2 linked regions of the Homo sapiens genome follow. The protein of the gene in region 2 interacts with the protein of the main gene of each other region in a pairwise test. Each region holds a gene or a part of one and is shown on either strand. Other genes may lie near its edges.

Region 1 (7,272 bases), on a different chromosome or scaffold from region 2:
ATGATGGTGCACACCTGTAGTCCTAGCTACTCAGGAGGCTGAGGCAAGAAGATTGACTGAGCCCAGGAGTTCAAGGCTAGCAAGTTTTTTTTTTTTTTAAAGTTCTCTCAAGGCTGCAAAGACTACAGTGAGTTAATATCATGCCACTGCAGTCCAGCCTGGGCAACAGTGTGAGACCACATCTCAAAAAATACAATACAATACAATAAATACAATACAATACAATAAAAATGTTGCTAGGTGTGGTGCTCACACCCAGAATCCCAACATTTTGGGAGGCTGAGGCGGGAGGATTGCTTGAGGCCAGTTTGAGACCAGCCTAGACAACATACGGAGGCCTCCGTCTCTACAAAACTTTAACAGCTTAGCTGGCATGGTGATGCACATCTGTGGTCCCAGCTACTTAGGAGGCTGAGGTGGAAGGATCGCTTGAGCCCAAGAGGTGGAGGCTGTAGCGAGCCATGATCACACCACTGCACTGCAGCCTGAGAAATGGAACAAGATCCTGCCCAAAGAAAAAAACAGGACGGGCGCGTTAGCTCACGCCTGTAATCCCAGCACTTTGGGAGGCCGAGAAGGGCGGATCACTTGAAGTCAGCAGTTTGAAACCAGCCTGCCCAACAAGGCGAAACCCCATCTCTACTAAAACTACAAAAATTAGCCAGATGCAGTGGTGTACGTCTGTAATCCCAGCTACTTGGGAGGCCAAGGCAGGAGAATCGCTTGAACCCAGGAGGCGAAGGTTGCAGTGAGCCAAGATCACACCACTGCCCTCTAGCCCTAGCAACAGAACAAGACTCTGGCTCAAAAAAAGGAAAAAAAAAAAACCAACAAAACAAAACTATTTTTATCCCTACTGCTATCAAAGCCAAACAGCCATGAAAACCAATGTGAGATTGCTGTATCTTTGCAAGTTCAGTCTCTTATTTGCAACCAATCTTGATACCAATTATCAAACATGTCTACCTAGTAATAGTATATTCTAGAAATTAAGTATAGAAGTAAATTCTAGGAGGGCCAGAGAGCCAGGCCCTAAAGCTATATTAACCAATAAAAATGCTCAACTATACCATGACAGTTGTTTCAGCAAAAACAAAAAACACCACTTCCAGCCGGCTGTGGTGGCATGTACCTGTAGTCCTAGCTATTCGGGCAGTTGAGGTGAGAAGGCTGCTTCAGCCCAGGAGTTCTAGGACAGTCTGGGCAAAACAGCAAGATCCCACTCCAAAACAAAAAACAAAACACACAAAAAAACCAACCACTTTCACTGCTATTTAGACCTGGATATCAGAAGCCCTCCCAGAGCTGCCCCTCAGGAAGTAGACACCTTTACCACTAGGCTTGCCAGGTCAGTCCTCCTGCCCAACCTATTCACATTGCTTCCTTCTAAATCCAGATCCTGGGGCATCTGCCTGCACTCTAGCTGCAAGACAGACTGGCAGGAGTATGAGTATCATGATTTCACCAAGAAGATGGAACTCTCATGTGGGAAATTATCAAAATATAAGGAGGATATCTAAGATGCTATAGCCACAGTGATAGTTGTCCACTAGTTAGATTATCTTTACCATCTTAACATCGAACATTTTATATAAGATGCTTATGACCAATTACATTTATTTTCCCATCACCACCTCCTAATTATACTTACTGAACGGGCACATTTTTTGGGGGGACTGCTAGAAAGTCCATCCAGTTGTCCATGTTCACCCAGAAATCCCGTCACTTGGTCCAAGAAAGAAGATACATCTAACTGGTGCCATTCTACTAGCTTCTGACCTAAGGATTAAAAACCAAGATCTATAAATAAATATAATATCTAGAATCCTTCTGAACATTCTCCAGGATCTATAAATATAATACCTAGAATCCTTCTGAACACTCTCATTAAGTATCTCTTTCAGCATATGCATAGATTAAAAACCTGGATCTATAAAGGTAATATCTAGAATCTTTCTGAACATTCTTATTAAGTATCTCTTTCAGCATATGCATAGATTAAAAACCAGGATCTATAAAGGTAATATCTAGAATCTTTCTGAACATTCTCATTATCTCTTTCAGCATATGCATACATTAAAAACCAGGATCTGTAAATATAATATCTAGGATCTTTCTGAACATTCTCATTAAGTATCTCTTTCAGCACATGCATAAAGTGTACTGTAAAGACATATCCTCTCCACCAGCTTATGCTACATAGTGTCTTCATAACCTAGAAGTCACATCAATTATACTCACCTAACAGATTCCCACCCGTAATGATAGGGCAACTATCTTATCTGCTGCTATCACTTACTGCCATTTAGGAAGAAGAGATTCAGACAAAGCAATATCTATATAAAACACCATCAATTAATAAAACCAGCTCCACCCTCTGCTTCTCAGGTGGGATTACAACTAGTATCTGGGCAATCTTAATATTTTAATGATAAAAAAAACTTTTGTCTTGTTTTGTTTTTTTGAGATGGAGTCTCACTCTGTTGCCCAGGCTGGAGTGCAGTGGCGCGATCTCGGCTCACTGCAACCTCCACCTCCCGGGTTCAGGCCATTCTCCTGCCTCAGCCTCCCAAGCAGCTGGGACTACAGGTGCCCGCCACCATGCCCGGCTAATTTTTTTTGTATTTTTAGTAGAGATGGGGTTTCACCGTGTTAGCCAGGATGGTCTGGATCGCCTGACCTCATGATCCGCCCACCTCGGCCTCCCAAAGTGCTGGGATTACAGGCATGAGCCACCACGCCCAGCTGGTAAAAAAACTTTTAAAAAATCCCTTAAAAAAGGTAAGATGAACATATCAGTTATTCTTCAAAAGAACAGAACTGCACAAACATAAAATACTACCATCTCCCAATGTTGCCAGAAAAAGATGTCCTAAATACATACATCAATAGATGTTTAAATAATTATAAAGGGAAAAAAACGAAACCTTCACCTAAATTACTGCAATTCTGAAAACAGATCCAGTCAAATATTAAAGATCAATCATTTAGGTAACTGAAAGACAAGTAATAGGTTAAAAGCTGCGTGCTGATATAAATCTTACCTGTCCGTGGGTCCAATATGGAAACATAGGGGAAATCCCCTAACTTATAAAACTGTATGTATCTCTGACCTTCCTCACTGTCATGATAAACCTGTTAAATCATTGATATAAAAAAAAAAGTCAGCCTCTAAGAAAAGAACCAACTATAACCTTCTTATACACCAACATCAATTAGCTCTCCAAATATACCTCCGGCCTATGTATTAAGATCTCACTCCTACACTAAAAAGAAAATAAATCTGGTTTGAACTCCTTCAACTTCCCACTTCCAGCACTCTCTGGAAATTTACCATAAACATATTGACCCATTCCTCCTCCTTTCCCAGTTCAGATGAGGTATTATTCTTCCTGCTCAAGTTATCTGTCAACTATGTCATTCATAACTCTCAACCATATACATCTTAATAAATCACAATATATTAAGATTATGGGCCAGGCATGGTGGCTCACGCCTGTAATCCCAGCACTTTAGGAGGCCGAGGCGAGTGGATCACAAGGTCAGGAGATTGAGACCATCCTGGCCAACATGGTGAAACCCCGTCTCTACTAAAATACAAAAATTAGCCGGGCCTGGTGACAGGCGCTTGTAGTCCCAGCTACTCGGGAGACTGAAGCAGGGGAATCGCTTGAACCCGGGAGGCAGAGACTGCAGTGAGCTGAGATCGTGCCACTGCACTCCTGCCCAGCGACAATGCAAGACTTGTCTCAAAAAAAAAAAAAAAAAAAAAAGATTATGGCTCCACATGGTGGCTCGCACCTATAACCCTAGCACTTTGTAGGGCAGAGGCAGAGGACAGCTTGAGGCCAGGAGTTTGAGACCAGCCTGGGCATCTCCACGAGAAGTTTTTTTGTTTTTTTTTGTTTGTTTGTTTGTTTTTAAATTAGCCAGGTTTAATGGTGTGCACCTATAGTCCCAGCAACTCAGGAGACTGAGGTGGGAAGATCCCTTGAGCCTATAGGGGTTAGAGCCTGCAGTGAGCTATGACTGCACCACTGTGTTCCGGCCTGGGTGACAGAGCAAGACCCTGTCCATTTATTTAAAAAAAAAAAGAAAAAAGAAAAGAAAAGAAAGAAAGAAAAAAAGATTATAAGCTCAAGAGTCCAGCACAGTGCTAAGCAAAGAGCTGCTCGATCAATATTTGTTGAATAAAATACAAGGAATTTTACCATTAAAGTTACATTAAATTTAGGGGCCTGTAAAATATAAACAGGCAAATTAATAACATTAATAGCATATCTTACAGTAGGGGAAAAAATTAAGCTCCTTCATAAGTTTTTATTTTCTATAACTTTTCACAAAATAAAAAATAAAAAAATTGAGCCGGCACGGTGATTCATGCCTATAATCCCAGCACTTTGGGAAGCCAAGGGAAGCAGATGGCTTGGGCCCAGGAGTTCGAGACGAGCCTGGGCAATATGGCAGGACCCCATCTCTACAAAAAAAAAAAAAAAAAAAAAATTATATGGGCATAGTGGTGCATGTTTGTGGTCCCAACTACTCAAGAAACTGAGGTGGAAGGATCATTTGAGCCCAGGAGGTCAAGGCTGAGCCATGTTCATGCCACTGCATTGCAGCCTGGGTGACAGAGCAAAACCCTGTCTCACAGTGGGGGAAAAATGATACAAGGTCTGTAACCTTATCTCATTAGCTGGGAAGACTAAAGTGACATGTCTAAGAACACAGAGTTAAAAAGTATCAAACTCAAGCTAAAATCTAAGTCTTAGCCAAATGCTTCCAATTACCTCAAGATCTTCTATACCTGCACTGTCTAATACAGCAACCACTACCCACAAGTGGCTACTGAAGCACCTGAAATCTTGCTACTCCAAATGGAGAAGGGGTGTAAGTATAAAATACAAACCATATCTTGAAGACTCAACACCAAATAAATGCAGATCATCTCATTATTTTTGTATTAGTTATATAGATATATTGATTTAACCAAATACATTATTACAGTTAATTTCATCTATTTTGATTAATCTTTTTTAATGTGGCTACTGGAAAAATTTAAATTATGTGTACAGCTTACAATATATTTCTACTGAACAGTACAGTTTGTTTGTTTTGTTTTGTTTGAGATGGAGTCTAGCTCTATTGTTCAGGCTGGAGTGTAATGGTGTGATCTTGGCTCACTGCAGTCTCCGCTACCCGGGTTCAAGTGATTCTCCTGCCTCAGCCTCCCGAGTAGCTGGGATTACAGGTGCCTGCTGCCACACCTGGCTGATTTTTTGTATTTTTAGGAGAGACAGGGTTTCACCATGTTGGCCAGGCTGGTCTCAAACTCCTGACCTCAGGTGATCCGCCGGCCTCAGCCTCCCAAAGTGCTGGGATTATAGGCGTGAGCTACTGCCCCCAGCCGGCTTTACCTTTTTTTAAATGTCTTAATTCATTATAACCCAATTCCTTTCCCTCAACAACCCACACTACAAAAGTAAAATTCTACAAAACTTCTGATTAACTCTCCTTCTCACCTGCCAGAAAATGAAATGTTCCCGGATAATATTCTTCACAGCTTCGTTGCTCCACACATCGCGGTTGAGGCACTGACATGCAAAGTCTTGAACATTTTGAATGTTTATCATCAGCCACTTATTTTGCATCTGGCCACACTCTTTGGCCTGCAAGAGTAAAGTTACACATTTGTTAGAAATAATTTCTACTTAGTGACAGATGTTTCCGTAGTTGTTCAGAGGTTGTTGTCTTTCATTAAAAATACTAAGTTTTTGCCAGATACGACATCTAGAGTTTTCAGCATTTATACATTCTATATATTTACTTCGCATATGCATTTATAGCTATACTGTCCATTTCAAGCACTGCTCAAATTTAAATGAACTCATTTCTCTTTTATCCAGTTATTTGTTATAATAGCTGATTCTCTCTCTCTCTCTCTCTCTCTCTCCTTTCTTTCTTTCTTTCTTTTTTTTTTTTTTTTGAGACAGAGTCTAACTCTATTGCCCAGGCTAGAGTACAGTGGGGCAGTCTCGGCTCACTGCAACCTCCACCTCCTGAGTTCAAGTGATTCTCCCGCCGCAGCCTCCCAAGTAGTTGGGATTAAAGGCGTGCCCCAACACGCCTGGCTGATTTTTGTATTTTTAGTAGAGATGGGGTATCAACATGTTGGCCAGGCTGGTCTCGAACTTCTGACCTCAAATGACCCGTCCACCTTGGCCTCCCAAAGTGCTGGAATTACAGGTGTGACTCATCATGACCGGTAATGGCTGAATTTTTAATGTATGTTTAAACATCTTTACCTGAAAAGGATTCAACAAACTTAAGATCAACAAGTCACGTAATTTTATTCTCTTGCAACCTCCATCAACAATTTTTTTTTTTTTTGAGACGAGCTTTGCTCTTGTTGCCTAAGTCGGAGAACAATGGCACGATCTCGGCTCACTACAACCTCCACCTACTAGGTTCAAGTGATTCTTCTGCCTTAGCCTACCGAGTAGCTGGGATTACAGGTGTGTGCCACCATGCCTGACTAATTTTTTATATATTTTTAGTAAAGAGACGGGGTTTCACCATGTTGGCCAGGCTGGTCTCAAACTCCTGACCTCAGGTGACGCACCCATCTCAGCCTCCCAAAGTGCTGGGATTATAGGCGTGAGCCACCGCGCCCAGCCAATTATACTTCTTTTTAATGAATGCAATTGGTGTGTATATTTTACTTTGTTTTCTTCAACATCATTTCTGGAACATTTTTAAACATCATATTAATCTCAGTTATTAGGCATATATGCTGTTTTGGAGAATCACCCTAAACATTTTAGTAAAAACTGCTGAGAGTTTTTTCTCTTAAGAGTTGTCTTCCTAGGAGTAGATTCCAAAAATTGGGATTACAAGGTCAAAGAATGTTTGAGAATGATCCCCAAACAACTCTACGATTCGTACAACAGATATCGATACATCAATCGTTAGTGCGTACTTTTTGCCTGTCAGTCCCTTGTCAGCATAAAGACCCATGAAATGCTGCTGAGTGGAAAACAATGGCAGAAAAGCAAATAAGCAAATGCTGCCTCAAATCTTTGCCTAGGAAAGAACAGTGACACGAAACCACAGTTTTGGAATAAATTTATCCTAGAACAGTATTCTTTTCCAAATCAGTGTGACATGGGAAAATCTTAAGAATCAATGAATTTGGTGTAATAACAATCCAAGAACATACTGGACATCATTTTGTGGGTACTGAAAAATGTGAGACTGAGAATATCTTCTGTTTTA
Region 2 (7,272 bases):
TCACCACTCCACAAGGCGGTTTTATGCACAGTGCAGTGTTGTGCCTTTACCAGCTGGCCTGAGTCTGCTGCACTGGTGGGAAGAACTAAAATGTGCAGGCACCCCAACCAGGCTGGCACACGGCAGGGAGCACATTTCACTGGGACCAAGAGCCACTGGCTGCAAAAGGCCACCTGGAGGTTCCCGGCAATAGGAAGGAGTCAGGGTCTTTGACTCAGACAGCATGGGGAAGCCAGCAGTGCCCACACAGAGCCCAGTGCCCAGGGAGCAGCATTCTTCCACAGCAGGAGGCAGGAGGCACACAAACCCAGCAAGAGGTTGCAGTGGGCTGAGTACAACTTCCTGTCCCCACCCCTGGGGCTGTGGGAGTTAGTGGCCTCCGGATGTCCCTGAGAGCCTAGCAGGGAAGTGGAAATGGCTGAAGCTGATGCTTGCCTATCAACTGGTTCCTACAAGACTTCCAGAAGCATCTGACACGAACCTGCTGCCTGCCGTCAGAGAAAAGCCATGGCGGGGGCCTCGCAGCACAAAACCCAGGCGCCTGGCCCACACAAACTGAGACTCTGCTGCAGATGGAGTCAAATGTCCCCTGGTATCTCCAGGCCCCTAGAGAAGAGGTTCAACAAATGCTGCCGGATAAGAACAAAGCCAAACTTTCTGCCATCTGGGTTCTGCCCTTTTCTTACTACCTCTGAAGCACCTCCCAAGTTTCCTGACGCCACTGTACAAAGCCAGCCAATGTCACTGCCCAAGGGAGAGCTTGGAAGTGTGTTTGGCCTGGCTGGGGATGGTGTCAGTGCCTGTCCCTCTAACCAGACCAGGGAACCAAACCAGAATGGCGAGCACGGCCCTGGAGCTGAAACAGGAGGGAGGGATGATGCCTGTGATGGGCTGGGGGTGGGAGGCGGTGGCATCTTCTGCTCCCTCCCTGGGATCCAGGCACGGTGCTTCTGACAGCTGCTATTTGTCAAAGCAAAGATATCTGGGAGGAGGAGCAAAAGAGCCTTAATTCTCTAAGCCAGCTATATGCAGGTAACTCCTCAGACACACACACCATGACTCCTAAAGCCCCTGTGGGGATCTTCGGATAAGCTCATGCAGCTGCTAAGTGGTGATGACTCCCAAGCCCAAGTTTCTGCCACCCAGCGACCTGGCCCCTTTTCCTTAAAAGACCAGGCCATAAGGGTGTCTTCCCTTGGGGCTGGAAAACACCACCCGTCTCACAGGCACTTTGCATCTCCCCCTTTCTGTGAAGTGTGTGCAGAGGACCCAAGGTGGATGGAGGAACCTGGTCACTGAGTGAACAGACCAGACAGGAGAGACACACACCTGCCCTCCACCATGCCAGGCTCGAGTATTCTGCAGAGTTCTGGCAACACATCCTCAAGAGACCCTGGAACTGCTAGAAGTATGGAGGGGTGGGGAGGCTCACACAGCTGCAGACACAGATCTGCACCTGGCTGGGAGGGAAAGCCCGTGCAGCTCCGAGGCAGCAGCTGAGCACAGGAACATGCCTCTCCATCTCCACTTGTGCCTGGTGGCCATGAAGGGCCCAGAGAGAAGGAAGGTGGGAGTCAGAGGGGAAACCCCTAGCAAATGACGCACAGGCTCAGGTTCCACCCCCTGACCTCATTTCCAGCCTAGGTGCGGTGGAGTGCCTGGTCCTGCTGCCTATTCAGCATGCAGAGCTGCTGGCCCAGTCTGCCAGGGACAGGACAGGGCAGTGCCACCCATGCCAGGCCTTGTCAGCTCCCCTTTTGGGAAATCTGGGGGGCTGTGCTCTTCAGGCAACAGGGTGACCTTGAGCAGAGAGTGTAGCCTACCAGCAGCGGCCCATCCAACTGCCCAGCCCTTTGAAGTGCAATGCAATTGTTTTGGTGAGCTGGGCCACCCGCAATGAGGATAGTGGGGGCAGCCAACTAAAGCTCAGGCCTGGAGCGCTTCATACTTTCCTACTGAGGCCACTACAGCTCCCTCCCACAGTCCTCTTTCCTGTAGCCACCTGTTCCTGGTTTCCCCACTTGTGTTAGGGCCTTGCAGGCCTCCCCTAGTCGCTTTCGCTCCTCATACACCCAGCAGCGGCCAGTCTGGCAGTCAGTGCAGCCGGTCAGCAACAGCTGGACACCCTGGGTGAGCAGTCACCTGCCCCTCCTCGCCCTCCTGTAGGAGGAGTAACAGGACAGACACCTCCGCAGTCTGACTCCAGCCTGTCCAGCCTGACTCCAGCCCATCCAGCATCTAACAATGGCTCTGGGCAATGCCCCAAGCAAGGCTGGGCAAACTCCTCGGCCAGCACCCGGTTTCCCCAGGCAGGGAAAGGGTAGGGTGCTTTCATTCTGACCACAGGGTCTCTGAGAGGAGGAGACATGGGACAAAGAATTGCCTGCAGGCACAGGGCAGGCTATAGCAGGAGCCATTTCTGCTTTTCCAGGAAGCCAGGTCCTCTCACATTTTTATTTTATATTTTATTTTTTGAGACAGGGTCAAGCTCTGTTGCCTAGGCTGGAGTGCAGTGGCGTGATCAAGCTCACTGCTGCCTCAATCTCCTGGGCTCAAGTGATCCTCTCACCTCAGCCTCCTGAGAAGTTGGAACTACAGGCGCTTGCCACCATGTCAGACAAATTTTTTGTTTTTAGTAAATGGGGTCTCACTATGTTGCCCAGGCTGGTTTCAAATTCCTGAGCTCAAGCAATCTCGGTTCCCCAAAGTGTTGGGATTACAGACGTGAGCCACTGCATCCGGCCTCCCTTGCCTTTAAAAGACAGCTTGTGTGACATTTAGCATCTCAAGAGCCTTAAAGATGGGGGCAATGGCCTTTGGCAGAGGGGAGGAAGAGGGCATCATGACATAAGAAGCTGAGCATGGGCTTCTGCTCCCCCAGAACACAGCTGAGGGGAGCTCTCCTTGGTGCTGCTGGCAAATGAACCTGCCGCCCCCCAGATTCTCCCTGGGCTGAGGACCCCTAAGCTTCCAGTCAAAAGCGGGTCATCTCCACGACTCCACAGGATTACAATGCTCTTCCGTTCAGAGCATCACCAATCAGACCCCCACCTCCACGCTTGTTCTGCTAGCCCAGAGACTCGAGGGTCAAAATTTGAATGCGTATTCTTTAGGGCAAGGTCCCTCAGTCTCAGAGTCACAAACAGAGATGTTAGAAAGGGAGAGAAATTAAAAGGCCCATTCGGGTTGATCCATCTTACCCACAAAAACAAACCAACGAACCCCCTCCCTCTTATACAGTATCCTCACCTTCCAGGAAGGCGCTTAGGAGGACAGGGGGTTTAACATTCGGTGCTCTGGAGTCAACCGCCCTTCCCTGCCCCTCCAGCAGGGGCTCAGCACATTCCCAAACTTCCCCAGCCAGGTGCCTGTCCTCGGAGCACCAGGCACTAGCTGAACCAGTTAAACTAGTCTCGCCTTTCCTAAGTTGTGTTTTTTCTAAGCTAGCAGGCAGCTACTGGAGGCCTTCCAACCCACCACTCAGGCCAACCCTCATAATAAGAAAAATACTACTTTCTATCTGCCTCATTTAGGAGGTTTCTACTTTTTTCCTTTAGTGGTTAACTAAATTTCATCTTATATAACCATCATAAATTTTCTAAAAATTTCCGCAATTGGTGCCAACAACCACAGAAAGTGTGTGTGTAAATGGGAAGTCTTCAGGGGAGTGACCAGGAGTTCTAGTGAATCTTCATAAGAAAACTCTTCACTAAGAAAGCCCCGCCTCGCCCCCTTTCCAGAAAGATTCCAAGAACTCACACCTCTGACTCTTAAGTCTTTTTTTAAATTAGAAAAGGTAACATGCAGCAGGTGAGGTTGGGATGATGACAAATCATGGGGAATACATTGGAGCTCCTGAGCTTTGGCCCACGGTCTGTGCTCTCTCTGAGCTGGAGCAGGCCCTGGGCGTGCCTGGGGATGCCCACTCCACATACACCCCCGGAAGCAAATGCTCTCCTCTTACCTGGAAGGTTTAGGGTCTTCAGAAAAGACAAAGACTGAACATGAGGAGTCCATACCACATGAACAGGGTCCACAGAGGGCCGGACCATTGTTTCTGAACAAAGCACTTCACCACGTTGAGACAAAGTCCACTGGAAGGACTGGAGACAACTGGCCTCTCTTTGCCTCCAGTGGTAAAGGACTGGCTTTTGCAAAAGAGAGCCTTAGGTGTAAAGCCTCTAGTTTACACACACACACACACACACACACACACACACACACACACGTGCACACATACAGAAACACATGCACCCTTGAGGAGGTGGCCTGCCCCTCAATTCCATGACAAGGGAAAAACTAGAACCAGAACCAGAGGAGCAGTGGTCATGCCTCAGGCTGGCTGGCCAATCTCCCCTTCCTCTAAGGGGGGCCCGGCTCCCGGTGTGGTTTCTGTAGTCTTGGGTGAGGCTGCCGGTGGTGGGGTGTAGGGGGGTAAACCAACAGCGCCAGGCACTCAAGTGCTGATACAGAGGGGGACAGGGGGACACATGGTGGCGTCCCAGGCAGTTCTCTGGCAGAGGAGCTGGACAGCCTCACCTTCCCGGTTCTCCACAGGGCAGTGGGGGTAACTCTGCATTTGGGCCATGGGGGCCCAAGAGCACTCTGTCCTCCACGGCTGCTCTTGCAAAGTTCTTCCTGAGAGCCAGGTTTTCTCAGGCTGAGCCCCTCTGAGGCTTCTTTGTATTCTTCCTACAACAAACGCAGTGTCTACAGAGAACGCCCTAGCAACCCACAGGACAAACGGAGGACTTCATGAGGTCTCCACACATGTGGGAAAGAAGTGAATAGGGTTTTTGAGGCCATGGCTAGGGAGGGCTGTGAGACGCAGGGAAGGCTCCTCTCCCTCCCTGGTCCCAAGCGGAGACGGCGAACAGGGACAAAGCTGAGCCTGAGCGTCCTGACAGCATGCATGCGACAGGACTGACGCGAAGCCTGCAGCACATGTGACAACAGACTTAGAGAACTGGCAGCAGTCAGCCCAGGAGAAAGGAGGCGTTGTCCCCTGGGGAGGAAAGGGGCTTCCCAGACCACAGCTATGATGCCCAGGGGAGGGCCGTGCGGGTCCTCCCACCTGAGCATGGCCTAACAAATGCATGGAGCTGAGCCACGTGGGTAATATGCCCACCTGCATCCAGAGTCTTTTGGCTGAACAAGTAATTAAGAGAGAAGTTTTCAGGAGACCTGAGTGGACGCCATTAGTCAGTTACTTCCCAGGAAATGCTCTGAGACCATGATCCCTCCTAGGCTCATGCTTTGTAGGGGAAAGAGCCCTCTGGGAGTGAGGAGGCTGCAGGGCAGAGAAGAGTCTCCCTAGGAAACATTCTCGCTGGGCTGGTTGCGTGATCCAGTCCTCAGATGCTCTCAGAAATCCCAGAACTCTTTTTCCAACCACTACTATGACTTGAATCTGGGAAGGTGGGCCAGTACCAGGGTTGGAGTGCACTCAGATCCACTGCCTGGTCTAGTGGAAGATGCCGTTTTCTGATGAACATGGTTTGGAGACCAGACTAAACACTAAGCATGGAAAATCGAGGGTCAGCAGTGGCGTGGGCTGAGCAGCACTGAGGAGAAGTCTGTGGGCTCTGGAAAACTGCAAAAAGAAACCTATGAAGGTCTCACATCTTTCATGGCAGCTGTAACTTCCCAAGCACTGACCATGTGCCAGGCTCTGTACCAAAGGCCTTTATGTGCCATCTCTTACCCAGTTCTGACAATCCTATGAACCAAGTATTGCTATCCACATTTTACAGAGCAGAAAACTGAGGCTCCGCTAAGCTGAGCAACTTGTATAAGATTGTAGACACAGAGTGGTAGAGGGAGATTTGAACTCCCATCACCTGGACTCCAAAGCCTTATGCACAGCATGCTAGGCAGATGTTGACAGTCATTTTGTTTCCCAGAGGCGTCCTGTTAGGTTAGCTTGGGTGTTTTGAAATCCCCTGCCCTCAGGGTCCTACCCTCTGCGGTATTCACTGTTCGGCTCTGAGGCAGCCTCCAAGGTAGGAGGCAACATGGCCAGGGTGGAGCAGCAAGGTGTCCTATCCGCATTTTCAATCCCCAGAGCGTCTCTATGTCACACATAGTCCCCCGTCAAGCTCTCTGGTGTGGACTCATAGGACTAAATCAGGTGTTCGTCCGAGTTCGAACGTGACAAGGAGACGACCAGCTTCCCAGCACTCTATGCATGCCACCAGCACACAGCCCCCACCTCCCCAAGGAGGGCGGGTGCTTGCTCTGGGCCCCTCTGCTAAGCCGTGGAGGACACCTGGCTGTCTTGGGGCCTTCCACAGTCAAGGGTGAAGGAAAGGCTGCATCTCCCAGCCAAAGTCCTCAGAACTGAGTTGCAGAGAGGCAGGGGCCTAACTGAGCAGCCCGAGAGCCTTCCCAGACCTCGGACCTGACCCCTGGGCCTTCCTTCCTTGTCCCACTCCTCTTCCTCTCTGACCTGAGCAGCAAGGCTCCCAGAACAGTCCACTTCCTCACCACCACTGAGGCACACCTGCCAGAGGGCAGGGTGAAAATACTGCCCAGAACCACCCTCGACTGGAGGCTCCCACAAGGACTGGCCGGCTCCCCCGACGGATGCTCTGGAGGCTGGTGAGGCAGGCCAAGCCCTTACCGTTGTAGGAGAGGCGAGGTTTGCTCAAACACATTATAAAGTGCATTTCCATCTCGTCAGAAGCCACAGACTTGGAGCAAATGGGGCACTTGAAACCTGAAAGAGAGGAGAATGGGATGAAATGTTTTCTCCAGATCCAGTACATCCACAGTACATGTGGACACTCTCGAATGACAGCCATGTGGGCTCAGGGTCAATGTGGAGGATGACCATCAGAACAGACCCTGGACCTGTCCTCCTTCAAGGACTCATTTGAGCATCTGCCTTTTTTTTTTTTTTTTTTGAGACGAAGTCTCACTCTGTCGCCCAGGCTGGAGTGCAGTGGCACGATCTCAGTTCACTGCAACCTCTGCATCCCGGGTTCAAGCGATTCTCCTGCCTCAGCCTTCCAAGTAGCTGGGATTACAGGTGTCTGCCATGACGCCTGGCTAATTTTTGTATTTTTAGTAGAGAGGGGGTTTCACTATGGTGGCCAGGCTAGTCTTGAACTCCTGACATCAGGTGATTCACCCGCCTCGGCCTCCCAAAGTTCTGAGATTACAGGCATGAGCCACCGCGCCCGGTGGCATTTGCCTTTTATTGCAGCCTTTGACTGACTGCCAGCTTTCACTAGGGCTCACCCTGCCTTATGTGCCTCGTTAAGGTTTAAC

Evidence for each region.
Region 1: the proteins of ZNRF1 (region 2) and UBXN7 interact in binary tests that used the Homo sapiens proteins (3 or more experiments, as listed by UniProt).

Annotation. Positions count from the first base shown.
Region 1 is NC_000003.12:196,366,377-196,373,648, forward strand, and holds part of UBXN7 (UBX domain-containing protein 7), read right to left. Parts: intron 5,667-7,272; coding exon 5,520-5,666; intron 3,136-5,519; coding exon 3,045-3,135; intron 1,780-3,044; coding exon 1,652-1,779; intron 1-1,651. UniProt on the Homo sapiens protein: Ubiquitin-binding adapter that links a subset of NEDD8-associated cullin ring ligases (CRLs) to the segregase VCP/p97, to regulate turnover of their ubiquitination substrates.
Region 2 is NC_000016.10:75,093,018-75,100,289, reverse strand, and holds part of ZNRF1 (E3 ubiquitin-protein ligase ZNRF1), read right to left. Parts: intron 6,719-7,272; coding exon 6,623-6,718; intron 1-6,622. UniProt on the Homo sapiens protein: E3 ubiquitin-protein ligase that plays a role in different processes including cell differentiation, receptor recycling or regulation of inflammation. Mediates the ubiquitination of AKT1 and GLUL, thereby playing a role in neuron cells differentiation.